Homo sapiens: one gene and its partners. The protein of the gene in region 4 interacts with the protein of the main gene of each other region in a biochemical or structural test. Each region holds a gene or a part of one and is shown on either strand. Other genes may lie near its edges.

Evidence for each region.
Region 1: the proteins of SLC2A1 (region 4) and PDLIM1 interact in a test that uses a peptide from one of them, tested with the Homo sapiens proteins (one large-scale study listed by IntAct).
Region 2: the proteins of SLC2A1 (region 4) and SHANK1 interact in a test that uses a peptide from one of them, tested with the Homo sapiens proteins (one large-scale study listed by IntAct).
Region 3: the proteins of SLC2A1 (region 4) and CANX form a complex in vitro, tested with the Homo sapiens proteins (one study listed by BioGRID).
Region 5: the proteins of SLC2A1 (region 4) and IL16 interact in a test that uses a peptide from one of them, tested with the Homo sapiens proteins (one large-scale study listed by IntAct).
Region 6: the proteins of SLC2A1 (region 4) and FRMPD1 interact in a test that uses a peptide from one of them, tested with the Homo sapiens proteins (one large-scale study listed by IntAct).
Region 7: the proteins of SLC2A1 (region 4) and LDB3 interact in a test that uses a peptide from one of them, tested with the Homo sapiens proteins (one large-scale study listed by IntAct).

The regions. Positions count from the first base shown.
Region 1 is NC_000010.11:95,280,421-95,284,709, forward strand, and holds part of PDLIM1 (PDZ and LIM domain protein 1), read right to left. Parts: intron 1-4,289. UniProt on the Homo sapiens protein: Cytoskeletal protein that may act as an adapter that brings other proteins (like kinases) to the cytoskeleton. Involved in assembly, disassembly and directioning of stress fibers in fibroblasts.
Region 2 is NC_000019.10:50,671,030-50,675,318, forward strand, and holds part of SHANK1 (SH3 and multiple ankyrin repeat domains protein 1), read right to left. Parts: intron 1,086-4,289; coding exon 989-1,085; intron 1-988. UniProt on the Homo sapiens protein: Seems to be an adapter protein in the postsynaptic density (PSD) of excitatory synapses that interconnects receptors of the postsynaptic membrane including NMDA-type and metabotropic glutamate receptors via complexes with GKAP/PSD-95 and Homer, respectively, and the actin-based cytoskeleton.
Region 3 is NC_000005.10:179,712,244-179,716,532, reverse strand, and holds part of CANX (calnexin isoform d precursor), read right to left. Parts: intron 635-4,289; coding exon of another isoform or gene 533-634; intron 429-532; coding exon 239-428; intron 1-238. UniProt on the Homo sapiens protein: Calcium-binding protein that interacts with newly synthesized monoglucosylated glycoproteins in the endoplasmic reticulum. It may act in assisting protein assembly and/or in the retention within the ER of unassembled protein subunits.
Region 4 is NC_000001.11:42,952,173-42,956,461, forward strand, and holds part of SLC2A1 (solute carrier family 2, facilitated glucose transporter member 1), read right to left. Parts: intron 1-4,289. UniProt on the Homo sapiens protein: Facilitative glucose transporter, which is responsible for constitutive or basal glucose uptake. Has a very broad substrate specificity; can transport a wide range of aldoses including both pentoses and hexoses.
Region 5 is NC_000015.10:81,290,423-81,294,711, reverse strand, and holds part of IL16 (pro-interleukin-16), read right to left. Parts: intron 4,260-4,289; coding exon 4,172-4,259; intron 2,157-4,171; coding exon 1,675-2,156; intron 1-1,674. UniProt on the Homo sapiens protein: Interleukin-16 stimulates a migratory response in CD4+ lymphocytes, monocytes, and eosinophils. Primes CD4+ T-cells for IL-2 and IL-15 responsiveness. Also induces T-lymphocyte expression of interleukin 2 receptor. Ligand for CD4.
Region 6 is NC_000009.12:37,737,714-37,742,002, reverse strand, and holds part of FRMPD1 (FERM and PDZ domain-containing protein 1), read right to left. Parts: intron 1,926-4,289; coding exon 1,119-1,925; exon of another isoform or gene 651-1,118; intron 1-650. UniProt on the Homo sapiens protein: Stabilizes membrane-bound GPSM1, and thereby promotes its interaction with GNAI1.
Region 7 is NC_000010.11:86,677,722-86,682,010, reverse strand, and holds part of LDB3 (LIM domain-binding protein 3), read right to left. Parts: intron 2,645-4,289; coding exon 2,493-2,644; intron 1,930-2,492; coding exon 1,854-1,929; intron 576-1,853; coding exon 208-575; intron 1-207. UniProt on the Homo sapiens protein: May function as an adapter in striated muscle to couple protein kinase C-mediated signaling via its LIM domains to the cytoskeleton.

The DNA of each region.
Region 1 (4,289 bases), on a different chromosome or scaffold from region 4:
CCCTTGATACAAATGAGTTTGTGACCACTGGCTCAGTTTAAAAGTTATGGAAAGCATGATTATATGTAGAAATACTTTATGACTAGGATTACCAAATGCCCTGATTTGCCCAAAACAGCTTAACTATCAAGACCACCCCATTTCATTCGCAGAAGTACTCCAGCCTGGATAATAAACAGTACTGTTGCCTTTTTGACAGAGGTGGGGGTTTTAACCAAATATTTGTCAAATGGTTTAAATGGTTCTCAGGCAGAGGTTTTTGCTTTGTTTTATTTTTTTCTTTTTCTTGAGGGAAAAACCGTGTCTATTCAGAAGGCTTATTTGTGGACAGGACTACAGGTCAATTTCCTGACTCTTTATGGAACGTTGTTAACCTTGCCCCTTGGAGTTGGCTCTAAACCTCAGGCCAGAAATCAACCCCACTCACCAATACTCAGCCAACTGTGATATTTGCAAGGATGAGGCAATGGTTTTCAAACAGGTTGGTCATCAGATCCCATGGGGGCAGGGATTCAAAATATAGATAGAGCTCCACAACCCATCTCAGATCCACCAAAGACAGCCTATACAGTGAAACCCAAGAACCCATACCTTTTTAAAGCTTCCCAGAAAATGTTAATGCTCATCAGGTTTGGAAACACCAAGAGAGATGATGACTATGACTATCTTTTCCCCTTAAACTCTCTCCCTGAATGAAGTTAAAGTCATCAGGTAGACAAAAAGTAATTAGACCCTAAAATCTCAGCTCCTCCAGAAACACCTTCAAGGGCAGAACTTATACTCCTATAAAATACATACAAAGCCCTTGAAAGGAATATCCATTAGAATAGTATTCCTCTATCTCTTACCAAAACAGACTTAAAAAAAAAAAAATAGGCCAGGCAGGGATGGCTCATGCCTATAATCCCAGTACTTTGGGAGGCCACAGCAGGAAGACTGCTTAAGCCCAGGATCTTGAAACTAGTCCGGGCAACACAGTGGGACCCTGTCTGAACAAGAAATTAAAAATTAGCCAGGCATGTAGTCCCAGCTACTCAAGGAGACTGAGGTGGAAGGATCGCTTAAACTGGGAGGAAGTGGAGGCTGCAGTTAGCTATGATAGCACCACTACACTCCAGCTTGGGCAATAGAGCAGGATGCTGTCTCAAACAAAACACAAACAAAAAAATACAGCCCCTGTAATGTTGGTTAACACCCCTGAAAATGCTATGCAAATGAAGCATTGCATAAGTAATTTTGTTGTTTTTTTTAAATAGAGATGGGGTCTCACTGTGTTGGCCAAGGTGGTCTTGAACTCCTGGCCTCAAGCAATCCTCACACCTCGGCCTTCCAAAGTGCTAGTTTCACAGGCATGAGCCACTGCGTCCAACCAGTAGAAGTATAATAACTCCAAACAAGATATCTAAATAACTCGACGTGGGTCCTATTTTCCCTTGGCCAGAAAACTCACAGCTAAATGTAGTGTGCAATTACAGAACCAACTGATTTAAAGTTCCTGGCACTTCTCTCTCTTTCCTCTTCCATGTTCCAATTTTTTGTTAAATCTTATATGTGTTCTTGTGTTTTAAATATTGTAAATGTGTAACTAAGTGAAAGACAAGCCTAAGACAAGCCTGCAAGTAAGTGAAAGAGACAGCCTAAATAACGATAGTAATAATTATATACAACTGGGATAAAGAAATGTGAGATTCAAGTTCAATCGCAATGCTACATGCCTTTAAGCATAATCTCCGCTGATTTAACAGTTGTGTCAAGGTATTTGGGTACAAATTTAACAGATTCTAAACTGGGGATAAAGCAGGACCCAGCTCTGTAGGATGCCATTTACATGTGGAATTTGAACTCTCTTTAGTCAGAATCTTCTGACTCAGTATGTTTGTGAGCCGAGGCTGTGGCACAGACTTCACAGCCATATTATGGCTGCAGAAGCTGTATGCATTTACACAGGGTGACCTGAAAACATAACACTGTTTTAAAATGTTCTTGGTTAGTCTATAACCATTTTCTCAGGGAAATGAGGCAATAAAATAGGGTAGATGCTTGTAGATAAGTTGCACCTTAATCCAGCTTCACACTATGCATGGTGCAAAAAGAAGTTATTAGTGCTAAGGGGTGACAGTTCAAAGAGACGTGCTGCTCTCTCAGTCTGAAAGACCGACCACCATTTCTCAGACAGGAATATAATAAAACAGGTAGCCAAATAGAATACTCTGACTAAATTCTTAAGAAGTCATCGAGGCCAGGCGTGGTGGCTCATGCCGGTAATCCCAGCACTTTGGGAGGCCGAGATGGGCGGATCACTTGAAGTCAGGAGTTCAAGGCCAGCCTGTTCACCAACATGGTGAAACCCCATCTCTACTAAAAATACAAAAAATTAGCCAGGTGTGATGGCGCACGCTTGTAATCTCAGCTACTTGGGAGGCTGAGGTGGGAGGATCACTTGAACCCAGGAGATGGAGGTTGCAATGAGCCGAGATCATGCCACTGCACTCCAGCCCAGGCGACAGAGCGAGACTCCGTCAAGAAGTCGTCGAGTTCCTCAAAAGTTTCCAAACAAGCTCCTATGAACCCTACGTGCTTTTAAATAGCTCCAACAGCTACCACCCATAACCCAAAGCCTAAACACTCACTAAACCTTGAGGGAATTACTCTCTCTGACTCAGTATCTTCATTTATCAAATGAAATTTATAATGCATCAACCTCATCAGGTTGCTGGAAGGCTTAAATGAGACTGCATTTGTAAAGAGTTCAGAACAATGCCTGGCACGTAATAAACACTCAATATATAGTAGCTACCATTAATATTTTTAATATTTAATAGTTTAATAGTACCACTAGGCTCTCTCTATATATCATCTTAATCCTCACCACAACCTTTGAAGACAAGCGCTATTATTCCCACATTGCAAATGAGGACACTGAATTTTCAGGGGTTAACCTGTCCAAGAACATACAAGCTAGTAAATGGACAAGATAAGGTTTGAACTAGATCTAGCAGATATCAAAAATGTATTTTTCCCTTGACATTAAGATGTCTTTAATTCTTGATTTGTTACAGTAAAAATAAGGCAGAAAGCACAAAGCAATGAAGTCCCAATAGTTCACTGAGATATAGTAATTTGGTTTTAGAAATGCTACGTGTGCGGAAAAAGTCTGGAAAGGTTTGCAGCCAGCTGTTCACTGTGTTTACCTCTGTAAAGTAAGACTGGGGAAGCCTTTTACCTTATGCTTTCTGTAGGTTTATATTGTCCGATCTTTTAAACAATTACGCGGGCTTCTATGTAACCTTTACTGAAGGATGACATGTATACAGCACAAATGGTAACGATACAGCTGATTGAATTCTCACATACAGAGCACACCCAAGGAAACAGCATGGGATAAAGAAGAGGACATTACCTGAACTGCTAAACCTCCCTGTGCCCGCCTTCCGTCACTGACCTTCCGGCAAAGGTCTGCCATGATCCTGACTGCTAACACTGTAGATTAATTCTGTCTAATTTTATGTAACTGGAATCACACAGTATTTACTCTTCACTCTTAGGTATGGCCTTTTTCTCTGTGTGTGTGTGTGTGTGTGTGTGTGTGTGTGTGTCTCCTTCATGTCACTGTGCATAGTTGTAATTTCTTCACTCTTGTTGCTGTGATGTTTTATACCATATAATTACACCCACTACTTATCTATTCTATTGCTGTTAGACATGTGAATCGTTTCAAATTTGGGGCTATTATGAATAGTGTTGCTTGGAAAATTCTCAAACTTGTCCTTTAGCACTCATGTGGACCCAGTTTCTATTGACTATTTAACTAGGAGAACTGTTGGGTTATATGGTATGGGTATGCTCAGCTTCAGAAGCATAAGTATTTTTTATTATTTTTTTAAAGAAATGGGTGCAAACTATTTGCTGCATCAACCATATTTAATCTATCTGTATGCATTTTTTTTTTCTAGATGGAGTTTCGCTCTTGTTGCCCAGGCTGGAGTGCAGTGGCGTGATTTCAACTCACTGCAACCTCCGCCTCCCAAGTTAGAGCAATTCTCCTGCCTCAGCCTCTTGAGTAGCTGGAACTACAGGTGCCTGCCACTACGCCTGGCTAATTTTTGAATTTTTAGTAGAGACAGGGTTTCACCATGTTGGCCAGGCTGGCCTCAAACTCCTGACCTCAGGTGATTCACCCACCTTGGCCTCCCAAAGTGCTGGGATTACAGACATAAGCCACCAAGCCCAGCCTCTGTATGCATTTTCAATATCTTTATCTAAACTAGGTCCTATCTATGTTCTTATTG
Region 2 (4,289 bases), on a different chromosome or scaffold from region 4:
GATCCGCCTGCCTCGGCCTCCCAAAGTGCTGGGATTACACGTGTGAGCCACTGTGCCTGGCCCATCTATAGGTTTTAGCTCAAACCTGCACCCTGCCCCCTACCCAGCACTCCCTATCTCTCTTACCTTACTCCATTATTTTTTTTCACTCTTTTTTTTTTTTTTTTTTTTTGAGACAGAGGGTTGCTCTGTCGCCCAGGCTGGAGTGCAGTGGCACGTTCTCGGCTCACTGCAAGCTCTGCCTTCCGGGTTCACGCCATTCTCCTGCCTCAGCCTCCTGAGTAGCTGGGACTACAGGTGCCCGCCACCACACCCGGCTAATTTTTTGTATTTTTAGTAGAGATGGGATTTTACCATGTTAACCAGGATGGTCTCGATCTCCTGACCTTGTGATCTGCCTGCCTCGGCCTCCCAAAGTGCTGGGATTACAGGCGTGAGCCGCTGCGCCCGGCCCACTCTTTTTTTTGTTTTCCATAGCACGTACAACTGCTAACATACTAGATAATTTTCTTGCTTATTTTCCTTATAATCCATTATCTGTCTTCCCCTGCTATAAGGCAAGCCCATGAGGGCAGGAACCTTTAGTCTGTTTTATTCGCTGACGTATCCCCATTCTAGAACAATTCCTGGCATGTGGGGAGCGCTTGGTAAACACTTGTAAAATGAATGAATGGATGGAATCGGGTATAAGAGAAACAACCAGAAAGCTGTAGCGGGGGCTTTAGCTCACTGCATCCCCATTCTCCAGATGTAGAGCCAGAGGCCCAGAGAAGTCAAGCCACCTGCCCCAGTTCACACAGCTGGGAAGGAGGGGAGCCAGGATTCATGGCCAAGTTCACCCATTTCCAAAGCCTGAACTCTTAACCCAATTTGATGAAACTATGGTCTCTCTGGGAGCACAGAACATTTCCAAGTCTGCTTGCTTTTCCTGAACTGTCACGTTCCTGGCCTCCCCCAGCCCCCACATCTCTTCTTCTGGGTGGCATACCGATAGATTTTTGCCGGAGCATCAACCCAGGTCCTGGAGGCAGGAAAGAAGGACGCTCGTAACTTGGCTGGGCACGGTGGTGGGGATCGAAGCTCGACTTTGGAGCGGCAGTCAGAGGGGGAGAGAGAGAAAAGATAGAGAGAGATCAGTCAGCGCAGAAAGGCTTGTGGCTTCACTATACGGCTGCCCCCATTCCTTCCCTAAGCCCCTGCCGTAAGGGAGAGCAGTGTGAAGACGGTGGAAGGAGGCCGGGCAACGTGGCTCACGCCTGTAATCCCAGCACTTTGGGAGGCTGAGGCAGGAGGATCACCTGAGGTCAGGAGTTCAAGACCAGCCTGGCCAACATGGCAAAACCTCGTCTCTCTACTAAAAATACAAAAATTAGCCAGGCATGGTGGCAGGCGCCTGTAATCCCAGCTACTCGGGAGGCTGAGGCTTGAGAATCACTTGAACCCATGAGGTGGAGAGGTGGAGGCTACAGTGAGCCAAGATCACACCACTGCACTCCAGCCTGGGCGACAGAGCCAGACTCTGTCTCAAAAAAAAAAAAAAAAAAAAAAAAAGAAAAGAAGGCGAAAGGGAATTCTGCGGGAATGAAAAGCCTCAAGTCTGGGCAGGAAGGAGAAAGAAAGGAGAAGAAAGCAGATTTTCCATCGACTCTTGATCTGCTTCCTTCCTCCAGCCACTGCCCACATCCAGGTCCCCACCAGTGTTCTCCGGGATGGAGCAGCCTCTTCCCTCATCTCCCTGCTGCCATCCTTGATCCCCCACCCTGTTCCAGTCTGTTTTCCACACAAGAGTCAGAGGCATCTTTCAAAAAGCATGCTATTGCCCCTGCTTGAAATCCCATGTCAGTTAGGAGGAGATCAGAGGGGACCAAACTCCCAACTCTGGTCTACAAGACCCTCTATGGCAGGCACTGCTGGTGCCCCTGCAGCTGCCCTCCCCCTGGATGCAGCATCCCATCCCTCACCCACTGCTGGGAGGGTCACCTGCCTGCAGCCCTTAAGAATCACCCTCCTTCAGAGTCCTGGACTCGCCCAGTCCGTTATGTGTCCCTGCTTCCTGGAGCAGCCCACAGCCCACGATGGACGGATACGGAGGCCCGAGGCAGCACTAAAGCCGGGGTGCCCAGCCTGACCCCATGGGTTCCCACTCCAGCGTGAACCGTGTCTGCTTGACTTCCTTCCACAACCCCAGCCAGTCTCCCACACTCCCTGAAGGTTCCCCCGTAGCAAACCCTTGGTACAGGAATCCCCACCTCCGGCTCCCGTTCTAGGGAAGCCCACACGAAGACAGGTCCTGCAGGCGGGACCCAGCCCTGCCCCCATTTCCCACTTGCTCCCTTGGTCCACCTCCACCCCCACCTCTTCCTTCTCCTCTGTCAGCCCCAGGTCTACCCTCATTGGAGAACACCTGCGAGCCCTGGTTCTCTCGGCAACAGCTTTCCCTCTTATTGTCACAGTTCCTTTTCAGCGCGAAGTTCTCCTCGGCGAGACCTTCCCCGGCCCCCTACCCAGACTGCACTTCCCTCTGTCCCATTTTCTTCACAGCATCTCTCTTCCCCAGAAACCATCTTGTTTACTTGCTGTCTGTTTCCTCCACTAGCCTAGAAACTCCCTGAAGGCGGGGCTGATGTATCCCAGGCATCGCACCTACAGTGTCTAGGGCCCATGATGCTTTTAGGGGAAGTGTTTTCATTTCTTTTCAAAGTAGAAGTGAAAGAAAAAAAGAAAAGAGAAAATTGTACCCTGGATAATATCGGTCTTTGCAGCAACAAAGTCATAAAATTTAAACTTTTTTTTTTTTTTTTGAGACAGGGCTGGAGTGCAGTGGCGTTAACACGGCTCACTGCAGCCTTGGCCTCCCGGGCCCAAGCGATCCCAACCCCAACCTTCTGAGTAGCTGGGACTATAGGCAGGCACAATCACATCCAGTTAATTTTTAAATTTTTTTGCAGAGGCGAGTTCTTGCTATGTTGCCCAGGCTCATCTCAAATTCCTGGGCTCCAGCGATCCTCCCACTTTGGCCTCCCCAAAAGTTCTCAGATTACAGGCATGAGCCACCGTGTTGGCCTATTTTTTTTTTTTTTAATGCAGAAGGGCAAAAGTGCCTAAGGTTCATGGAAGTCATTATGAAACCTGCCTGAGGGTAGGGTAGTGACTTTATCAGTCTCCTTTCCTACTGAGTCCCCGGTCCCCGCATAGGGCCTGCTGTTCTACAAGCAAGTGTTAGATGAGTAACAGGGAGAATCAGCCAAGGTCAGGCACTTCGGGGCCCTGACTCCCCAGCTTCTGCCAGGTCACCCCATGTGTCTCCCTTCTCCATCTTTGAGACCAGAAGTGCAGAGAAAGGGAGCCCTCTCGGAATGAAGTTCGCACCTTTGGGATGAACCCTTACTTCCTGCACTTCCCACTATACCCCCTCCTGCCTCTTTCCTCCAGCCATTCACAACCATTCCCAGTTCCCTCGCTTCTCACTTCCGAGACTCTGCATGGAGCATCCTTTCCCTGGGCTCTGGGCTCTGCTTGGGAAAGCTCTGTTATCTTAGCCCTCCACCCTGGCCCGGCTACCCGCTTCCTTTAGGCCTGCAGTGCCCCCCTAGAGCAGCCACTAGCCATTCAACTGTACATTTCAGGCCAACGTGGTGGCTCATGCCTGAAATCTCAACATTAGGGAGGATCGCTTGACCCCAGGAATTTGAGACCAGCCTGGGCAGCATAGGGAGACTCTGTCTCTACAAAAATAAAAATTACAAAAATTGCTGGGCACGGTGGCTCATGCCTGTAATCCCAGCACTTCGGGAGGCCAAGGTGGGCAGATCACCTGAGGTCAGGAGTTCGAAACCAGCCTGGCCAACATGGTGAAATTCCACCTCTACTAAAAATACAAAAATTAGCTGGGAGTGGCGGCATGTACCTGTCATCCCAGCTATACAGGAGGCTGAGGCAGGAGAATCACTTGAACCCGGGAGGCGGAGGTTGCAGTGAGCCGAGATTGTGCCACTGCACTCCAGCCTGGGTGATAGAGCAACACTCGGTCTCAAAAAAAAAAAAAAAAAAAAAAAATTAACCAGGCATAGTAGCACATGCCTGTCATCTTAGTTACTTGGGAGGCTGAGGTGGGAGGATCACCTGAGTGCAAGAGTTCAAGGCTTCATTGAGCTATGATTGTGCCACTGCACTCCAGCCTGGATGACAGAGTGAGACTGCGTCATTAAAGAAACAGACCAACCAAAAAGACAAGTGTAAATTTCAATTAATTAAAATTAATTTGTAAAATTCAATTTCTCTGTTGCACT
Region 3 (4,289 bases), on a different chromosome or scaffold from region 4:
ACCACAGACAAACTCTTATCAAGTGTGGCATTCTGTGGCTTGTAAAATGGTGAGTCAATCCAGATGATTACACTATGGCCCCTTTCCAGCTATAGTACTCTATATTTTCCCTACAGATTAGACTGCATCATGGATTACTGAAATTATCAGAGCTTACTCAACCAACATTTCGTTGTTCAAGCCACATGGAATATATGAAATGCTCCCTTACACTTGAAGACAGTTCCCCAAGACTCACCAGTCATCTGGCTTGACAGCTTCTGGATCTGGGATTTTTGGTCTTTCATCCCAATCCTCGGGCTTCCGGTCTTCTGGGTCCTCAATTTCACGTGAAGGATTTACAGGAGGAGTCATGTCATTGAGCAGATTTCCACTATTCACCACAGATTGGTCAACCAGTATTTCAAAACTATTATCTGGATTCAAGACTGAAAGAAACATTAAATGGAATTAAAAGTACTTAATTTTCCAAGCTCCCTTTACCATAATACAAAAGATCATGACTTCTAACGTGAAGCAGCAGAAGTCTGACCTGAGGCTTTGGGGTAAGAACAATGCCTGGCTCCTGGGGTCTTGGGGAAGCTAACGCCCATTTCCTTATGCACGAAACATAAATGATTAGTCCCTCGGCTTTCTAAGAATTACAGCAAATGATAGTTAAAATCTTTAACACCAAAGACTTGACTTATAGACACTAAAAAAAAAAAACAAAAAAAACAAGAAACTACATAAACTAACACAATTATTGGGCTTACACATATACACCAGTGAGAAGACAAATACGTGGACTTACAACTACTTCCCAGTACAAAAGGTCCATTTCTTCATTTTTAATAGAGCTGGTATTATTACGTTACTGAAATTACACAAACCTCCAATTTATTAAAACGCATGTCCACTCATGATTCTACTTTCTACTTTTTAACTCCCATGGAGAATGAAAAAACAATTTTAAATCCATAAAAGCATTTTTTAAAATTTTATTTTATTTTTTTGAGACAGAGTCTCGCTTTGTCTCCCAGGCTGGAGTGCAGTGGTGTGATCTCGGCTAACTGCAACGCCCGCCTCCCAGGTTCAAGCGATTCTCCTGCCTCAGCCTCCGCAGTAGCTGGAACTACAGACGGCCCCGTGCCACCATGCCCAGCTAATTTTTTGTATTTTAAGTAGAGATGGGGTTTTGCAATGTTGCCCAGGCTGGTCTCAAACTCCTGAGCTCAGGCAATCTGCCCAACCTCAGCCTCCCAAGGTGTTAAGACTACAGGTGTGAGCCACCGTGCCCAGCCACATGGGCCCCATAAAAGCATCTTAAGTGTGATGTATATTAAAGCCCAGATTCCACACCTAGATATCTAATACACAGGAGACTGAGTTACAGCACATCCAAACAAGGAATCCTATGCTGCTGTGTCAGTGATAATGAAAATGAATATTTCTGTGAGGAAGAACTTCACACTCTTTTGTTGTTAAGAAACGGGTGTGGTGGCTCATGCCTGTAATCCCAGCACTTTGGGAGGCTAACGCAGGTGGATCACTTGAGGCCAGGAGTTCGAGACCAGCCTGGCCAACATGGTGAAACCCTGTCTCTACTAAAAATACAAAAACTAGGTGGGCATGTTGGTGCACACCTGTAAACCCAACTACTTGGGAGGCTAAGGCACAAGAATCGCTTGAACCTGGGAGGTGGAGATTGCAGTGTTTCTGTCTCAAATAAAAAAGGGCCGGGCGCAGTGGCTCACGCCTGTAATCCCAGCACTTTGGGAGGCCGAGACGGGCGAATCACGAGGTCAGGAGATCGAGACCATCCTGGCTAACACGGTGAAACCCCGTCTCTACCAAAAATACAAAAAATTAGCCCAGCGTGGTGGTGGGCACCTGTAGTCCCAGCTACTCGGGAGGCTGAGGCAGGAGAATGGCGTGAACCCGGGAGGCGGAGTTTGCACTGAGCGGAGATCGCACCACTGCACTCCAGTCTGGGAGACAGAGCGAGACTCCGTCTCAAAAAAAAAAATAAAAATAAATAAAAAAATAAAAAAGTTAGATATAGCATGTAAAGTTGTATATGTGTATATACACATATTGACAAATATATATCACAATGCTGATGTTTAAGATAATTTTAAGTGACTTCTTTGTGTATGTTTTTATTGACATATCGTACTTGTACATATTTTCGGGGTACGTGTGATATTTTGATACATGTATATAATGTGTAATGACCAAATCACAGTCATTGGACGGGCCCAGTGGCTCATGCCTATAATCCCAGCACTCTGGGAGGCTGAGGCAGGCCCATCATTTGAGGTTGGGAGTTCGAGACCAGCCTGACCAACATGGTGAAACCCCAACTCTACTAAACATACAAAAAAATTGGCCGGGCATGGTGGCGCATGCCTATAGTCCCAACTATTCAGGAGGCTGAGGCAGGAGAATCGCTTGAACCCGGGAGGCAGAAGTTGCAGTGAGCTGAGATCAGGCCACTGCACTCCAGCCTGGGCAACAGAGAGAGACTCCCATCTCAAAAAAACAAAAAGAACAAAACAAAACAAAACAAAACAAACAAATCACAGTAATTGAAATATCTGTAACCTTAAACATTTACCTTTTCTTTCTATTTTATAGAGACAGAGTCTCATTCTGTGACCCACGCTGGAGTGCAGTGGCCCAATCATAGCTCACTGCAATCTCGAATCCTGGACTCAAGGGATCCTTTTATACCACAGCCTCCCGAGCACCTGGGACTAGAGGTACATGCTACCAAGCCTGAATAATTATTTTTTTGTAGGAACAAGGTCTCACTATGCTGCCCGGGCTGGTCTAGAACTCCTGGCCTCAAGTGATCCTCCCACCTCAGCCTCCCAAAAGCGCAGGGATTATAGGCCTGAGCCACTGCACCTGGCTCCATTTACTTTTTCTTTGTATTGGGAACAGTACAATTCTCTTCCAGCTCTTCTGAAATACACCATAAATTGTTCTAACTATAATTTCCCTACTGTACTATCAAATATTAGAATTTATTCCTTCTACCTTATTTCTGTACCAATTAACCAACTTGTCTTCAACCCCTCTCCCTCGCTTTAAGTGTTTTCTTTTTGCTTACTTATGGCTTCTGAATTTCTATACCTTAAATATGTATTACTTTTGGAAATAACAAAAAAAGGTTAAGCTGGGCTCAGTGGCTCACGCCTGTAATCCTAGCACTTTGGGAGGCCGAGGTGGGCGGATCAACAGATGGCCAAGAGTTTGAGATCAGCCTGGCCAACAAGGCTCTACTAAAAATACAAAAATTAGTTGGACATGGTGGTGTGTGCCTGTAATCCCAGCTACTGGGGAGGCTGAGACGGGAGAATCACTGGAACCTGGGAAGCGGAGGCTGCAGTGAGCCAAGATGGCGCCACTGCACTCCAGCCTGGATGACAAAGCAAGACTCCGTCACAAAAAAAAGAAAAAAAGGTTGTTATATTCTAGGCTGGGTACAGTGACTCACACCTGTAATCCCAGCACTTTCAGGAGCTGAGGCGGGCAGATCACTTGAGGTCAGGAGTTCGAGACCAGCCTGGCCAACATGGTGAAACCCGGTCTCTACTAAAAACAGAAAAATTAGCTGGAAAAAAAAAAAAATAATAATAATAAAAAAAAGAAAAATTAGCTGGGCATGGTGGCACAAGCCTGTAATCCCAGCTACTCAGGAGGCTGTGGCAAGAGAATCGCTTGAACCCGGGAGGCAGACGTCACAGTAGGCCAAGATCACGCCACTGCACGCCCACCTGGGTGACAGAGCAATACTCCGCCTCAAAAAAATTAAAAAGGTAGTCCAGGCGCGGTGGCTCACGCCTATAACCCAGCAGTTTGGGAGGCTGAGGCGGGCAGATCACCTGACGTCGGGAGTTTGAGACCAGCCTGACCAACATGGAGAAAACCCATCTCTACTAAAAAAAAAAAAAAAAAAATTAGCCAGGCGTGGTGGCACATGCCTGTAATCCCAGCTACTTGGGAGGCCAAGGCAGGAGAATCGCTTGAATGCAAGAGGCAGAGGTTGTGGTGAGCCAAGATCACACAATTGCACTCCAGCCTGGGGAACAAGAGTGAAACTCCATCTCAAAAAAAAAAAAGGTTATTATATTCTTCAGAAAGAGGCATGCCTATTTATGATCTCAAACTAGCAGGAAAAGCTTCAATAAACAAACAAACCAAAAAAAACCCTGTATCAAAATGATTCAACTCAATTGTCAATTGTCCAGGTATTGGAGCATCCAAATAAGTTCAACTACAAGATACTTCTGAAAAACTAT
Region 4 (4,289 bases):
GCAGGGGTGATCTTTATATCACATTCTGTGGCTGGTGGGCTCAAAGGCTACTTTGTGGAGAGAATGAGACCATGCAGTGAAAATGAGGATCAGGATCAAGCCCACAAATAGCCCGGGCTTCTAGGCAGCACTGTGTCCCCCACAGTGCTGATGACATAGCTGGCTGCCGGGCCACTCAGGCCCACACTCAGCCTAGCGCTTGGCTGGAGGAGATTCCCGTAGAGGCTGATGCAGTCGATCAGCGAGTTGGGGATAAGGACTTCCATCACCAGGTTGTAGATGGTGATGATGCCAGCCATGACCGCTGGGACACTGGACTTCAGGATCAGCTCCAGCCGCATAAGGGCCAGGGCCACGAGGCAGTGCTGCTCTAGGCTGTGCCACAGACAGCACACAGGGCTGTGGGATGGAGGCAAGGCGAGCCCAGAGCAGAATCTGTTTACCTGGGGCCAGAACCCTCTGGGAATAGCTTCTGCACAGCTGTGAGGGCCACACCCAAGTTATCACACGCAGCAGGGAGCTGAAGGCAGCCCCCACCTAGGGGCAGGAAGTCCTCAAGAAGAACTGCCACAGCTGGGTGATCAAGGAGCCCAGTGTAGCTGTTTGTTTCTTTCCTTGAACTGGGCCCTCCAGCCCAAGAGAGTCCACCTCTTCCTCCAGCAGAGGTGCTTATGGCTAGCTGGCCTGTCTGGGCTCCCACTGTGCTATGAAACCCAATCTGTGCTGCTCAGCACTCCCCAAGCCTGCTGCACAGACCACATGCTCCCCTGGAGCCTCAGTGCCGCTGACCCAGACAGCTAGCTCTCATCCCCAGTACAGCTGAGGACACAAGCTCCAACAAGAAGTGTGGCTGGCCTAAGGTCCAATGGTAGAGCTGTTTCTGATGGAGCCGTTTCCTCCCCACTCCCAAATGCCAGGGCAGGGGGAGATAAACTGGGCTAGGAGACATAGGCAGACTTCCTGTCCAGCAGAGGCCTCAGTAGCCAAAGGCTCCATCAGCTGAGGCCTGGCAAGAGCTCTCTCCCATTCCAGGGTGCAGAAGCCTCAGGGAGGCAAGTCAGTGTGGTCACAAAGAGAGGAGATGCTGTCTTCTTTCTGCCCAGGTTCAAGGCCTGGGAGCCCTGCTCAGTTACTGCAAAACCCTAATGTTTATGCATCAGCTACTGCCAGGCCTGGTGGCTGGAAGACAGAGCCTCAGGCTCCAGTCCACCCCTCCCGTGGAGAGAGGTAACAATTGGAGGCTTGTTAGGGTAGCCAGGGCTGGGCCTGCAGGCCTGGACACAGCCTCTCTGAGCCCATGAATCTGGTCAGGAGGCCTCCCAGCCTCCGCCATCATGGGGACGTCGGTTACCAGACTGCAGACTGAGTGAGCGGCTTTATCACCTTTATGCCCAGGAGTGAGGTGGGGGAAGGGGTGAGGTTGCAGGCCCCAAGCCAACACTGCACACTTTCCTCTTTGTTCCAGGCCTCCCCAGCTTTGCCAGTCTTGGGGAAGCAGGGAGCTGGATGGCTGTACCCTTGGTACTTGAGCAGAGCTCTGGGCCGACACCCCGTGACCAGGAGGCACTGGGCAAAGCTGAGCTCCTTGAAGTCACAAGCTGATTACGGGGGATTTGAGGCTGGCCCAGCTCCGGGGCAAATAGGGTCGAATCCCTGGATGGCTCGGTACTAGACAAGGATCATCTTGGGGCTGTTTACATCATTTGTACACCCAGACTGGCCTTACAAAGGGTCTTTCCACTTAAAATAGCCACTTCTCTAATTTAGGGCACGGGGCCAGTCTCACCACATCCACTGGGGGTAGCCAAGTCTCTATTTACTGAGAAGGAAACCAAGGCTCCAAGGAAAGCCACTTCTTCAAGGTCAGAGTTTAGTGGGAACATCTAGTGTTTTGTTTCCATTCACAGTAGAGTTTCAGTTGTCAAGTTACGTCTAATCCAACTTTCAGGCTCCTATGGCATGGCAAGTCCTGTGTCTGGGGATTCCTGCTCATTTGGGGTGGGTGGAGGATGGCACAGACAGGCATGTGGAGAAGAAAGCATCTTTAAAAAAAAAACACAGCTAGGCCAGGCGCGGTGGCTCACACCTGTAATCCCAGCACTTTGGGAGGCCGAGGTGGGCGGATCACCTGAGGTCTGGAGTTCGAGACCAGCTTGACCAACATGAAGAAACCCCATCTCTACTAAAAAAAAATACAAAAAAATTAGCCGGGCATGGTGGCACATGCCTGTAATCCCAGCTACTCGGGAGGCTGAGGCAGGAGAACCACTAGAACCTGGGAGGCGAAGGTTGTGGTGAGCTGAGATTGTGTCATGGCACTCCAGCCTGGGCAACAAGAGCGAAACTCCGTCTCAAAAATCAAAACAAAACACAGCTCCATAGAACGCCTCAAATCTTTTGTGATAGCCTTATCTCGGACAAATCTCTTCCCTTCTCTGGACTCAATTTCCCCATTTGTCAAATGGAGGGCTGGGCCATGGCTGGAAGGCCCCTCCTGCTCTGGGTTCCTTCCACCCTCTAATGTCATCCTGGAAAGGCTGGCAGCATGTCTTGGGGTGGGAGGCTCAGTGTGTGATCTTGGCAAAGTCATTTTTTATTGGACCATGAGGTCACTGTAACTTGTATCACAGGGCAGTTGTGAGGACCCTTGGAGTTAATGGACATGAATGTCCCTTTCAAACTATCCCAAGGGTGACCCAAATTCAGAAAGGTAGGCAGGAAGCCTAAGGCAAAAAAGCAAAGCAAAGAAGCCCAAAGCAGCGCAGGGCACTCACATGAGCTGACCCTCCCTGGCCTGGCACTCTCACCCATGTGCCATGCCTACTCACTTCCCAACAAGCCCCTACTAGGAAGAATGGGTTAGTGGGAGCTTTAATGATTTACCTGACTTAATACCCATGGGCCAGCATCCTGACTCCCCAAAAGCTCATACTGCCAGAATGCCAGCTTTTGGATAAAGGCCAAGGCCCAGGTACAAGTCACCCACAGCCCAGGTAAGGCATCATGGGAGTCCAAGGAAGCAAGAAATATTTATGGAGCATCTATGGGGACAGAGACGTACATTCTTTTCTGAATTCCTAGACACTGTAATGATGAAAACTGGGCAACTAAGCTAAGCTGGGATTCAAAACCACATATGCAAACATCTATGTTTGGCCGGGTGCGGTAGCTCACGCCTGTAATCCCAACACTTTGGGAGGCTGAAGTGGGCGGATCACCTGAGCTCAAGAGTTCGAGACCAGCCTGGGCAACATGGCGAAACCCTGTCTCTACCAAAAATACAAAAATTTAGCTGGGCACGGTGACGCATGTCTGTGGTTCCAGCTACTCAAGAGGCTGAGGTGACAGAATCGCTTGAGCCTGGGAGGTAGAGGTTGCAGTAAGCCAAGATACTTGCCTGGGTGACAGAGTGAGACCTCGTCTCAAAAAAAGACAAAAAACAAAAAACTATGCTGTCTGCACCACAAAGGGGCTGAGAAAGCCTGCAGATTTCTGATTTTTCCTTTTCTGGAAGGTAGAGACTGGCCAGAAAAGTGATGAGTGATGGGCATAGGCAAGGCTAGTTACAAGTTCTTCACGAAGGGTGGGGTGAGACATCTGGGGCAGGGCTCACCCTTGCGTGCTGCCCAGGAGAGATCGTGGGCGAACCCCTGGCTTGTAGGCAAGGTGATTCCATCTGTCCCCTACTTCCTATTCAGCTAAGCTCATTACTGTGAGTTACAGAGGAGCACAATGGAACACGGGGAAGTTAGTTAAGTCAGTTCCCATTTCCTAGGAGACAAAGAGGAACATAGCAGAACCAAGGCTTTGGAGCCAGACACACCTGGTTTTCAGATCTTGTGTGAAAGGCAAGCGATATGACCTCCCCAGGCCTCTAACATCATGCACAAAAAGGCTGTGCTTGCAGGTCAAATCAGCAGTCTCCAAAGGGAAGGGCTTTATTCCAGAATGTATATGGAATGATCTACACAAGATTTGGAGGGGAAAATGACTATAACTGCTGTCTTGTATCTATCTGTCTTTTGAAATTTCTATTTTATGAAGGCATATCATCTGTTAGTATCAAACTGCATGTGCATGAATTTAAAAATACAGCCGGGCGTGGTGGCTCACGCCTGTAATCCCAGGCCTGTAATCCCAGCACTTTGGGAGGCCGAGGCGGGCAGATCATCTGAGGTCGGGAGTTCGAGACCAGCCTGACCAACATGGAGAAACCCCGTCTCTACTAAAACTACAAAAAAAAAAAAAAAAAAAAAAAAAACATTAGCTGGGTGTGGTGGCACATGCCT
Region 5 (4,289 bases), on a different chromosome or scaffold from region 4:
GTGGGAGAAGGATCTGCTGGCCACGTGGGACAGACCAGAGCAAACAGAGGAGGGCAGCTGCAGAACGGCCTTGTCTCCAGGAGACGGTGCTGTTGGGGGCAGGTACAGGAGGGAGCCCTGTATTCTGCTGAGGCACACAGGGCATGAAAGATGACCTGTGGGAAGTTCCTTGCCTGGGCTTCCCTGAGGACACCCCAGTTCCTTCTCCAGACGCCTTACTCGGGAATATTCCCTGACCCTATGTGGCTCTGCCAAGGGCATCACTGGGACAGACCTGCTGTGGCAACTGCACTCCTTTTCTGGGCCTCCAGGAGGAAGGCAAAATGACTGGCTTCTCAGCTGGCTGCTCCTGATTTGCCCTTCTGGACTCATAGGTCTCAGGCCCAAGGGAAAATGAAATATGGGCTTAAAAGAGGGGGTGGGAGAACAGATCCATCTGATAACTCCATCATGTGTTGCTAACCAGCCACATCCTGCCAGCGCTCTGCAAAACTGCACTTCCTTTTTAGTAACCTGGCTTCCTCCTCCCTCCTTCACTTTCACCCCTCCTACTCAACATCCCGTCTCCACCGCTACCCCTCCTGAAGCTTGCCAACCCTCACTGTAGATTGTTTTAGGGGATTTCCAGAGGCCCCCTCCCACCTGCCCACGGTGTGCTTAAGGGAAGGGCCAGGGCCCCTGCAGGGCCATTCCGTGATGGGGGAGACAGCTTCTGGGTAAGGATGGGAAACTCAGCATTGCATAGTGGGTAACTGTGACCCACTAGCAATGTGAACTTGAGCGAGTTTCTCAGTTCCCTCTTTGCACAACTGGGACTCTCACCATCAGGTGGTTGTAAGATTTAATTGACACAATGTACATGAAAGTACTCAGTGTGGTTAGCCTGCGCATAAAATGGTTCTAGACACAGCAGCTGTCTGTCAGTCAGTCTGCCTTTTATGCAAGGGGTGGAAAGGAGGGCTTTAAGGGGCCTGATGGGGAAAGATCATGGCAATGAATGCTAATATGCCTGAGATGCTGTCAGGTACTTGCCTTAAGTGGTTACCTTTAATCCTCACAATAGCCCTTGGAAGGAGCCACTCCTCCCGGGTTTAAGCAATTCCCTGCCTCAGCCTCCTGCGTAGCTGGGATTACAGGCACCTGCCACCATACCCGGCTAATTTTTGTATTGTTAGTAGAGACAGGGTTTCACCATCTTGGCCAGGCTGGTCTTGAACTCCTGAGCTCATGATCCACCCGGCTCAGCCTCCCAAAGTGCTGGGATTACAGGCATGAGCCACCGTGCCAGGCCCCTTTTTAGTTATTTAAGCCACTATTCTCCCTACAAGCAGGACACTCAAAGATCCACATGCAAAGACTGAGACCCTGCAGGGGCCCTGGTATTTTTCCTTCATGGTGAGTGAAAAATGACACAAGAAAGGAACCTTAAATTCCAGTGTGTTATGGGTGGGAACCCAGATGCCAGCAAGCAGGACTGGGACTTCAATTATCTGTCAACCTTCAAACCCATCTTTTCATGGTCAGTCCTCAGCTGAGTCCTAGGCAACAGTTTCTCTCTGGTGGAGCAGGAGAAACTTTCATTCTGGCCCTGCTAACACTAACTTGCTAATTTGCCCATGCTCAAGATTTGAGTCTGGTCCTGGAAACACTCAACCTGTGGACCCATCCTCTTACCTGGCCACAGGTGGGTGGGGTGTGCCCAGAAGAGCATGAGGAGTTCTCTCTCTCTTCCAGACTCTTCTGAGGGTCACTGTCACTTTTAAAGTATTTTCTGGGTGGAGGCTTGGGCTTGGAGGACATAGGCTTTCTCACCAAAATCTCAAAGGATTTCTTCAGTCTCAGCGGCGGGTGGCTGTCCCGGCTCTCTGGGAGGGGTGGGCTCTCCTGGGGCAGCCTGGAGGATGCTATAGAAAGCACCACTGGCTCCCGTGCCAGAGGCAAGCTGGGGCTGTGTGTGCTGATGTCCACGTCAGAGGACGGCTTCTCAGCACTGCCACTCCCAGGACTTCCCCCTGGGGACCCAGACATGTAGCTGCTGTCACTGCTGGAGCGGATCATGACCTTCTGAGCCCTGCGATGCGGGGGTGCTGAGTTCTTCTCTCGTTCCTTCTCCAAGGTGGGCCGCCCGTGCCAACTGCTTTCCAGCCTTTTGACACCTGTGTGGGAAGCACAAGAGAATCTTCACAGCTGAGCTTCAGAAAACAGAAATACCCCCTGGCCTCACCTGTGACTGCCACGGGCAGCACACTGCACATCGGCCATCTGCTTCTTATCTGAAGTCACTGTGGATCTGGAGTATGGCAGTCTTGGTGTTGGTCCCTGGCGAGCTGTATGACTTTGGGTTGGGAAAATCATTCAAGCTTTCTGAGCCTATGACTGATGTATATGGAGATATGCCACCCAGATCACCCATCGAGGAAGGGCTTGGTGTCCCAGCTGTGGGGAGTGCTGCTGGCAGACTACTTTCAGCTGTGGGTCCCTCCAGGGGCTGCCACAGCTGCAGACAGCTGCCTTGTCCAATGGGGCAGCCCATCTCCAGGGACTGCTGGAGATAGGGTTACAGAGGCCCAGCTATGTTGGCCAACATAGGACAACTCTAATGGGGACTTTGGCTGCAGAGCTCCAGGGCTTGGCTGAAGCTGTTGGGTGTGCACCTCAGCTCCGTCCTCCCTCTGTCTACCCTGCCTGCTCCCCTCCCTGCCACAGGTAGTGAACCCCAGGACACTGCCTGCAGACCAAACTCCATCTCAGAGTCAGCTTCCTGGGGGACCCAACTCCATTTCTGCATCTGTAAAATGAGGATGATAATTTTAAAGTCACTGGGGTTATTTTGAGGCTCAATAACAAAGACAGAGAAACTACCTGTCAAGGCACTTTGAATCTTACACGAAGAAGTCACTATTTCTTTCCAGTTGAGGGTGAGGTGAGGGCAGAAAGCCGCTATTTCTTAGCCACTGCACCTTCCTCCCTCCCTCCCCATTAGCCCTTCCTGGTTCTCAGTACCCCCTACCCTAGTTTCCAGCACTAGGGCTACCCACACATCCTTGAGAGGCCCTTCTCTCTAGTGGTAAGCTGTCAAGGGTGCCCCTTTCCTAAAATCACAGCTTGAAGGGGTGGGAGAGGATTGAAATCTAGTCTCTTGCTCAAATTCCAGCTCATTCTGAGAGACCAAGAAAGCCAGAGGAGCCCCATGAGAGAGAACCAAGGCCAGCCAAGCTCCTAACTCACTTTCTCTTTAAATAAAAAGTTTTCTTTTTTTTTTTCCTGATCATGAAATAATGCATCCTCCTTAGAGAAAACTCAGCCACAAGGAGGAAGGAATGAAAGTAAAAATTCACTTCACCTGTGTTCCTATCAGCCAGAAATAACTACTGTCAAAATTTTGGTGAGTTTCTCTGTCATGCTTTCCCGAGCATATATGCATGTTGGGTGGGTAGAAATAATAAACCAGAGCTGAAATAAATTGTGTTCTGTTCTTTTCTCTGAACATTTCCCCAGATCATTTAATTTCTTGTCAATATCAGTGCCAATGGTTGCATGTTGTTCTTTCATAAGGATGTTCCATGGTAGACGTGATTAATGCCCAATGGCTAGGCATGGGAGTCAAGCCAGCTGGATCTCCATTCCAGAGCCTCTGTGCTCTAGTGGTATGACTTTGAGTAAGAGAGTCTCTGAGGGCCTCACTTTTTCTTATAAAATTTGCATAAAAATTATGTGTGAATGCATGAATTAGCATAGTCTCTGATTTATTATAAGAATTATAAGAATTAAATAAATGTCAGAATTATATTCCCAAATGTTAGTTTTTCTAATATTCTATTATTATAAACTAGGGGCTGCAAACTCAAGTGCCTGCAGGGGCTATTGTGTGAATGGCAACTTGGTACAGGATAAAGGGAACGGTGGAGACCACCGGGAGCTGGAGAGAGCCTGGCACATTTGTAGCAATTTAAATTCAGATGCTTTTAAAATCTTGTGTCTTCCAAACAAAGCAAAAATATAAGCTAAATTTAGCTGGTGGGCTGCTAGTTTTCAGCCTTTGTCTACATACTATGCTGGTCTATGGTAAATGCTGTTACTATTCCTTGGATAGAGGATGAGTTAATGGATAAATCCTAAGCTTTCTAAGAAGGCAAAGATATTTTACATCAAAGTTCACCATTTGTCTTACCTTCCAGACTCCACTGATGCCTCTCCTTTCCAAACTTGGTGTTTTCCACAGCCTGGGCCACAGCTTCTTTGAGTTGCTGTTCAGAGACCTAGAAAATATCAGTCATCTCCTCAAACAA
Region 6 (4,289 bases), on a different chromosome or scaffold from region 4:
CTGTGCGAGGTGCCAGACAGGGAGAGCCCCAGGTAATGCAAGAACATGTGACAGAGATGGGGAGACTTGCCCTGGCCTGGGAAGCCTGGGAAATGTTCTCTGAGGAAGTGAATTCCAACCGGAATCTGATAGACGGATGGGCACCATCAGCCACGATCTGGGGAGGAGTGTTTCGGTCAGAAAGAGCAGCATGTGCAAAGGCTGGAGGAGGGGGAAAAAACAGGCACTTGTAGAAAGTGGCAAGGAGGTCTGTATGGCAGGAATGCAGGAGGAGGGAGAGAGACAGGCAGAGGCCATGTCACAGAGGGCCTCAAAGGGCCTGATGGGGCTCCCAGAGGAGCTGGCCTTTCTCTCCAGAACAGTGGGAGAGCACAGGAGGTCTGGGAATAGAGGATCAGAGAGCAGCAGGAAAGTGCCGAGACAGGAACAAGGGCTGCAGCTCTCCCAGCTCCTGGCAGGTCACCTTCAACATCCATGTGCTCTTTTCCAATATGTTTCCTTCAGAATGCAGTGTGTGTGTGTGTGTGTGTGTGTGTGTGTGTGTGTGTGTGTCCTGCCAGGATCTCAGTTCTGCTTGGAAAGACCCTCCACACTCTCGGTGGAGGAATGTATGAGGAACCTGATAGAAACACAGCCACCAGATCCCCTACCTTCTGATGTCAGGGTCCCTTGGACCCCAGAAGGCCTTGCAGGGCCACAGACGGCCTGTCTGTCTGGTTCTTCTTGCTTCAAGGCCTCCTTTAATGCAGCCTCAGGATCAGTGATGACATAGCCACTTCGCTCTGCCGGGCACTCCTGTCAAGCCCTTTCCTTTTTTGTAAATTCTGTCCCTCCCACAGGGCCCAGCCCATTTGCCCCCTCTTCTGGGAAGCCTTCCCTGATTCCCACTGTTGGATGAATCCCTCCCATCTGCTTGCCACAGTTGTCTGAACCTCCCTTGCAGGCCTGCCACGATGCCTAAAATTTGGTCCATGGAATCTGTATCTACCTCCTCAGAAGTGTACAGGGACCCTGTTTCACTCATGTGCCTTCCTCTCAAGCTTGGCCCCAGGCCTTGATCCCCGGGAGGCACTCAGGAGCTGCCTGCCGTGTCTGCAGACCTGCAAGGGACGGCTCACCTGACGGGGGGCCTGGGGGAGTGAGCTTATCAGCCGCGTCATAGTATTCCTCATCTGAGCTGCCATCCTCAAAGGCCAGTGGTGGGTGCAGGGCCAGGGGTTCCAGCATGGAACTGGGCTGGGCCTCAGTCCAGCCCTGCTGACCCCAGGCTGGCGGGGCTCCCCCTTGCCGGGAAGCTGTACTCTCGGAACTGTCACTCAGGTAGCTGGCCGGGGAGACACTGGAACACAGGCTGTAGTAGTCAGCGTGGCTGCCTTCATACAGCCTGGGGTCCAGCCTGACTGTGCTCAGTTCTGGTGCCCAGCCAAATGTCTCCAAAGCAGCACTCTCGGAAAACTCTGTCTTCTGGCACTGGGGGTTGGCTCTCTGGGCCAGGTCCAGGAGACAGAGGAAGCCACTGGTTTCAATCCCGCTTCTCTCCTCCTGGCTGTCAGAGTCAATGCTCTCTGCGAGGCCTGGCGAGCCAAAGTGGAAGAAGGTGGACCTGCTGGAGGAGCAGGTGTCTAAGTCATCCTCTTCCAGAGCGTCCATGGACTCACTCGAGCCACTGGTCCTGTAGCCGCGGCTCTCAGTGTTGGCTGAGTCGGACGCCTCGGACTCGGCACTGTCTGTCGTGCTGCTGGCCCCGCAGGTGCTGGGGCCCCTCCTAGCCACCTCAGGTGTGGGGCTGTTCCCAGGAGGCTGCTCCTCCTTTATGAGTGATCTGCAGGGTGCCAGTTTCACCAGGCGCCTGTCAGAGAGAGGTTCGAGTACGCAGTCCACCTCAGAGGACTCCTCTGAGTCACTGCAGGCCCTGGATTCATAGCCTGCAACACAGGGTACAGCAACAGTTACACAACAGAATTCTCCTACCTATGTGTCCTTCTAGCCCCCTGACCCCCACCCAACCCTGCCAGACGAGAAAACTGAGGGCCAGAGGGTGGCTGGCCTAAGACCGTCCTATACTGACGAACACGGGATCCGAGGGACTCCAGCTTCCATGTTCTCCCCATGCTATCAGACCGCCTGTCCCACATCTCTCTGAGCTAAAGGAGGCTGGATTAACTCCATCCCCACCTCCAAGGAGAACTGTCTGTTCATGGAAATGTGGTATTTACTTTGATTCCTCTTTGTGTGGGCAGCACTGCCCAGGTTTGCTAAGCCCCTCCCCAGACCTCAGTTCTATCCTGCCTGGGCGTCAAAGTCAGATGGGGAATCATATTTTAAAAATACAACAGATCCTTGGCCCTACCCCTGATGTACTGAGTCAGATCGCTAGAAGTGGGGCCTGAGAATCTGTATTTTTAGCAATTTTATGACGAGTACGAGGCTGCTAGGCTGGCACCATTCTAAAGCCTGGCCTTCTGGATCCATGGGTGCTATGGGCTTTGTAGGACAGTGAAAACTCATCCAGCGGCAGGTTCTCAGGAAGGATTAATGGTAGGAGGCTGGGGAGCACTGAGCCAGGTTGCAATCTCTTTATTCCTGTAAGCCTCCAGAGTGATCTTTCTCAAACTTCTCTCTGACCTCATCACACCCTGCTTAAACCCTCTGATGGCTGCCCTGCTTACGGGGAAGAGCCTGGCCTCCCCCACAACAGTTACAGACTCTCACAGTATGGCCTTGTTGCCCTTCTCACAGGATGGCCATGGCGCCTCATGCACAGTCTAGTCCTCCCTTGCCTCAAAGGATGGCCCTAAGGCCTCCTCTGCAGGCTCTTCCCCCTCTCCCAGGATGGCCCTGAACCCTCCTCTGCAGTCTAGTACCCACGACAGGATGGTCTTGACACCTCCCCTTCAGTCTAGTGTCTCCCTCACAGAATGGCGCTGAGGTCTCCTCTGTAGTCTAGCTGCCCTTCTCGTGGTGGGGCTCCTATCTCTTTTCACCATCTCCCTTTTCCCCTCTTGCAATATGGTCCAGCCCCTCCTCAGGCACCCAGTCCCCCATGGCAGCCTTCCCTGCCACGTTCCAGCCACCCATAGGGAGAGCTCCTTTCAGGTCATGGCCTTTTCCTCGGGTCATTCCTCCAGGCCCCCTCGGCCTTGAATGATCTGTCTTCCTTTTCCGTGCCTGGTTAACTCCAGCATGTTCTTCAAGATCTATTTCCAATACCTCTTCCTCTAGAGAACTTTCTCTGACAGGCAGCAGCAGTCCCCCCCACAACCCCTCCACAACAGCCCTGTTGCCACTCTGCGTTGTCTCCCTGAGCAGACTCTGAGGAGTCACCCCTCGTTCATAAATACATTGTGTAACAACAAAGGTAACAGGCTGGGCGCCGTGGCTCATGCCTGTAATCTCAGCACTTTGGGAGGCTAAGGTGGGCAGATCATTTGAGGTCAGGGGCTCGAGACCAGTCTGACCAACATGGCGAAACCCCATCTCTACTAATGTACAAAAATTAGCCGGGCGTGGTGGCAGGTGTCTGTAATCTCAGCTACTTGGGAGGCTGAGGCAGGAGAATCACTTGAACCCAGGAGGTGGAGGCTGCAGTGAGCCAAGATTGCACCACTGCACTCCAGCCTGGGTGACAGAGAGAGACTGCCTCTAAAAAAAATAAAAATAAAAACAAAGGTAACAGATACTCCAAACTCATCACTTTCTAACTGTTTTACTTATTGTATTAGTACCTATTCTCTTGAGCTGATTTCTACTTTATCCATATAGAGGAAACACTCTACAGTGGTGTGCTATTGATCACCTCTTCCCATCTCCACATTCATCATGGTATCATCATATCGTGGTAGCCTGAAATTACCCATCGTGAGAATGTTGACACCATGGAATTGGGCAATTCCTTCAAACTGTTTTTGTCCCTCTGCAGGGAGTTGTTAAGCATTTATCAGCACAGCCCTAGGTTCATGCTGCATCAATGGTGCTGAGGCAAAAGCCTGGCAGAAACTGGGAGCTGGCCTAGGAAACTGTCTTACCTGCCTTGCAGAGAAGTTCTTTTATACTTCAAGAGATTGCAAAAGAGTGCATAGGTAAGGAAGAGAAGCCAGGTCATCTACTTCCTGAACAAATAAGTGACATCTCTTTTTGATGAGAAATAATGATAATCTTTTTTTTTTTTTTTTTTTTTTTAAGATGGAGTTTCGCTCTTGTTGCCCAGGCTGGAGTGCAATGGCACGATCTCGGCTCACTGCAACCTCCACTTCCTGGGTTCAAGCGATTCTCTTGCCTCAGCCTCCCAA
Region 7 (4,289 bases), on a different chromosome or scaffold from region 4:
CATGTCACCCCAGCGTGGTTGGTTGTATAAATCGCTAGCATGCCCGGCTCATGGCAAATGCCGCAGGATCACTGCTGACCTCATGGGCTCGGGGCTGGCTGGATTGGGGCCAGTGCCTCGCTCTGACCACCTGACCAGGTCTCTGCCGAGCACCGAGGACCCAGGTGGCCCAGGCCACCTGTGGAGAGCTGTATGTCCGTTACCTACCCTCCTGGGAGTCCGACACCCGAGGCCTTCCCTCGGAGGCTCATCTGGTACATCTGAGCCATCTCCCTCAGGGTCTCTGCCGAGTACAGGCCAATGGGGTTGTTATATTGCCTCGGCTGGCTCGAGCCCGGCAGGGCTTTTGGGCCGAGTAGGTCCCGGGCCCCCTCTGGGCTGGTCTTGGCCCTCAGGCTGGCCCGCGGAGGGCCAGGGTCAGAGGCCTCGGCGAGTGAGGAGAAGGCGGAGGGCCGGGAGAAGGCAGGGCTAAAGGTGGGCCTGAGCTCCGGGGTGCCTGGGGTGCCTGGGCTGGCCCTCGCCTCAGGGCTGGGGCTGGGTGCCACCAGGCTGCCGTTCGTGTCCAGAGCGGGGTCCTGGCACAGGGCAGGCCATGCAGGGGAGAGAGAAGAGAGCGGTTAGAGGCCACACGCGTCCCAGCGCTCCTGCGTGGACCTGAAACAGATGTGTTAGCGCGAGCCCCGCAGCCTGAAGCCCAGAGCGCCTGGGCGCAGCACTTGGAGGGGAGGACACTGGTGGAGGAGCAGGCAGGCACATGGCTCCTGGCCTGGCGTGAGGCTGGCATCCAGCTGGGCAGAGTGCCAAGCCCTGCATGGAAGCCAAGCCAAGCTTCCTGCCCCCAGGGCCCGAGGAAGTGGGTGTAGGGGTCAGGGGATGGCCCGTTCTGTGTCTGTTCCCCCTGCCCCTGAGAGTGGGTGCCCAGTGGGCACAGCCCAGCCTCCTGCTCCACTGACCCCACACTGCCAGTGAGATGAAGTTCCTGGGCTGGTTGTGGGCAGGTGGTGGGGAGGTGAGGAGGGAAGCTGAGGAATTGGGTAGCTCACATTTGGGCCCCTCAGTCTACCTCTGCAAGCATCTCCCAAGCAGCCCTCCACCCACTTCCCCAGTCTGTGACCTACCCCACCCCTGTCAGCCTCTTTTTCTCCCCTCTCCCCACTGCCCTGCCCAATCTGCCCCATTGGACAGGTGGGGTCACTATCAGTTCACATAGGGGGAGAAGTTGAGCAGGGAGCCCTCGGGGGTTGAGCTGCTTGGCGGGGCCTTGGGAAGGGCCTAGGCAGTGGTGAGGTCTGGAGCCAGGGCTTGGCCTCCCTTCTCCCCTGTGCCTGCCATTGCCAGCACGTCCTAAGGGCTACAGGGGAATGCACTTGGGAGGGGCAGGTGGGGAAGTGGAAACCAGAGGGAGAGATCTGGGTGAGGCCAGCAGGCCCCTCCACACCTGGAGGTCCTCGTCAAGCTGGGCCTCAGCCACAGTCACCCAGCGGTGGCCCCCTTGGCAAATGAAGGTCAGAGCCTGGACGCTCGTCCCCTGCCTGGCCAGGAGGGTGACCCCTCTCCTGGGAACACTGCTGCCCAAGCTGGCTTCCTATCAGCCCAGCCACGAGGCATAGCGGAGGTGGCTTGCACCCAGGCAGGCATTCATTCCCACATCCAGTGTTCAACAGGGGCTTGAAAGTCTCTCCCAAGGGGCTGCCTCACTTCCCCAGGGTCAGCTGCAGCAGGGGCAGGGATGGGGCAGGGCTGATCCCACGGCCTCATCCCAGTTGGGCCAGCCAAAGACCAGGCAGGCTGGCCAGGGCCAGCACTCCAGGAACCAGGGCTGAGTGGACCCCGCCGCCACAGTCAGCACCTACCTTCTGGTGAGGGATCACCGGCAGAGGGGTCTGGACTGGAGGTGCTGTCGTGGAGATGGGAATGGGACGCTTTGATCTGTAGAAACCAGAAATGAGACCAGGTGAGGAAGTTGCCCCTGGGGCCAGAAGCTCCTGCCTGGGCAGGGCTGGTGAGGAGAGAGCAAGAGAGAGCCAGAGTCAGCTCTCAGAGATAGCTGAGTCAGAGGGCCCCAGATCCACTGTCCACCCCATGGGCTGGATCTCCCCAAGAAGGCCCTGGGCCCGACGAGGATGGAGAAATCATGGCCCCTGGGCATTTTGGTCAGAATCCATGGGCCCCTGCTACGTCACTGGGGGCTGCCTGGGCAAAGTGGAAGTAGGTAAGACCTGCCTTCCAGGACCAATGGCCCACGTACGGGCAGCACCAGGACCACCATCTCTGCCTTAACTGTAAAGTGAGGCAGTAATGTCTGCCTCTAGGTGCTTGACAGCGACTTGGGCCTGTTCATTCCTCTGGCCCAGGGCTGTCCTTATCTTCCTGCACAGTTTTGTAGCCCAGGGCGGGGCCCACTCAATTGCTATGGGACAATCCCTCTTTTGGCCCCTGCCCCATGCCCACACCCAAACCTCCGCCCCCTGCTCTGGAGAGCTCCCACCTACTTCTGCAGGGTGAGGCTCAAGTTGTAGCTGGCAGACTTGATCTTGTTCTGGGCTTCCAGGTGGGTCATGGTGTCTGTGTTGACGCCGTCAATGGCCACCACGAGGTCACCCTGGCTGAGCTGGGACTGGGCTGCCTTGCTGCCTGGTGTGATCTGATTGGATAGTGGAGGTGGGGGGTGAGCATAAGGAAGGTGGTCCTGAGGAAAGGCCAGTCCTTGGGGAAGAGTCACCCGGGAGTATTCAACAGAAGCCGTCATTGTGTTTTTCATTCGCTACGGCCAGTACCAGCTGCTAACCAAGCCTAGTTCCTCTTTCCGGCACATGACTACCACATTGCTTAGAGCTTTGTGTCTGACTGCAGCCTTGGGACTAGCTCTGGCCAACTGAATGAGGGTGGAAGCAATGTATGCTCCTTCCAGGTCTGCCTCTAGCAACCATCCTTGTGATCCTGCACACTCTCTGCTTGTTGACTGACTGAATGCAGGGCATGGAGAGGAGGAGAGATGATTAAGGAGCACTGTATTGGACGTTGCATGAATGAGAAACTTTTGTTGTTCTGAGCCATTAAGGTTTGGAGGCTGTTGGACATGGTGGCTCATGCCTATAATCCCAGCACTTTGGGAGGCTGAGGTAGGAGAATTGCTTGAGGCCAGGAGTTTGAGGCCAGCCCAGGCAAAGGAGCCCAGACCCTGTTTCTACAAAAATAAAAATATTTGGCAGGGTGTGGTGGTGCATGGCTGTAGTTCTAGCTACTCAGGAGGCAGGTGAGAGGGTCACTCCAGCCTAGGAGTTTGAGGTTACAATAAACTATGATCGCTCACCACTGAACTCCAGCGTGGGTGACAGAGGGAGACTCTGTCTCTTAAAAATTTGCAGGCATCTGCTGGGCGTGGTGGCTCACGCCTGTAATCCCAGCACTTTGGGAGGCCAAGGTGGGTGGATCACAAGGTCAGGAGTTCGAGATCAGCCTGGCCAATATGGTGAAACCCTGTCTCTACTAAAAATACAAAAATTAGCCATGCCTGGTGGTGGGCGCCTGTAGTCCCAGCTACTTGGGAGGCTGAGGCAGGAGAATTGCTTGAACCCAGGAGGCAGAGGTTGCCGTGAGCTGAGATTGCACCACTGCACTCCAGCCTGGGTGACAGAGGGAGACTCGGTCTTAAAAAAAAAAAAAAAAAGGGTGGCCAGGTGTGGTGGCTCATGCCTGTAATCCCAGCACTTTGGGAGGCTGAGGCAGGCAGATCACCTGAGGTCAGCCTGGCCAACATGGTGAAACCCCGTCTGTACCAAAATTACAAAAAAAATTAGCTGGACATGGTGGCATGTGCCTGTAGTCTCAGCTACTCGGGAGGCTGAAGCAGGAGAATCGCTTGAACTCTTGATTGAACCCAGGAGGTGGAGGTTGTAGTGAGCTAAGATTATGCCACTGCACTCCAGCCTGGGTGAGAGCGAGACTCTGTCTAAAAACAAACAAACAAACAAAAAACTGCAGGCTATTTGTAACCTTGATTAGCCTCTTATAACCCCTGCACCCTGCAAAGCTATGGAGCACTTTTCAGACTCCAGGAGAAAAGGGAGATGCAGCAGCTAAGACACAGCAGCATCCCAGAGACACTGCCAGGCTGAAGGGCAGGATAAATGCACCCACTCAAAAGCATCTTAGTGCCAGGTGCTTTGTGCTACCTGGCAGATGTGGAGAGAGTGAGGTAGCCGACAACCCTGCCTGGATGAGCAAACTCAGCTGGGAAATGGGGCAGGGCTTAGGGTTCTGTAGTTGATGTCATACCTCCAGAAGGC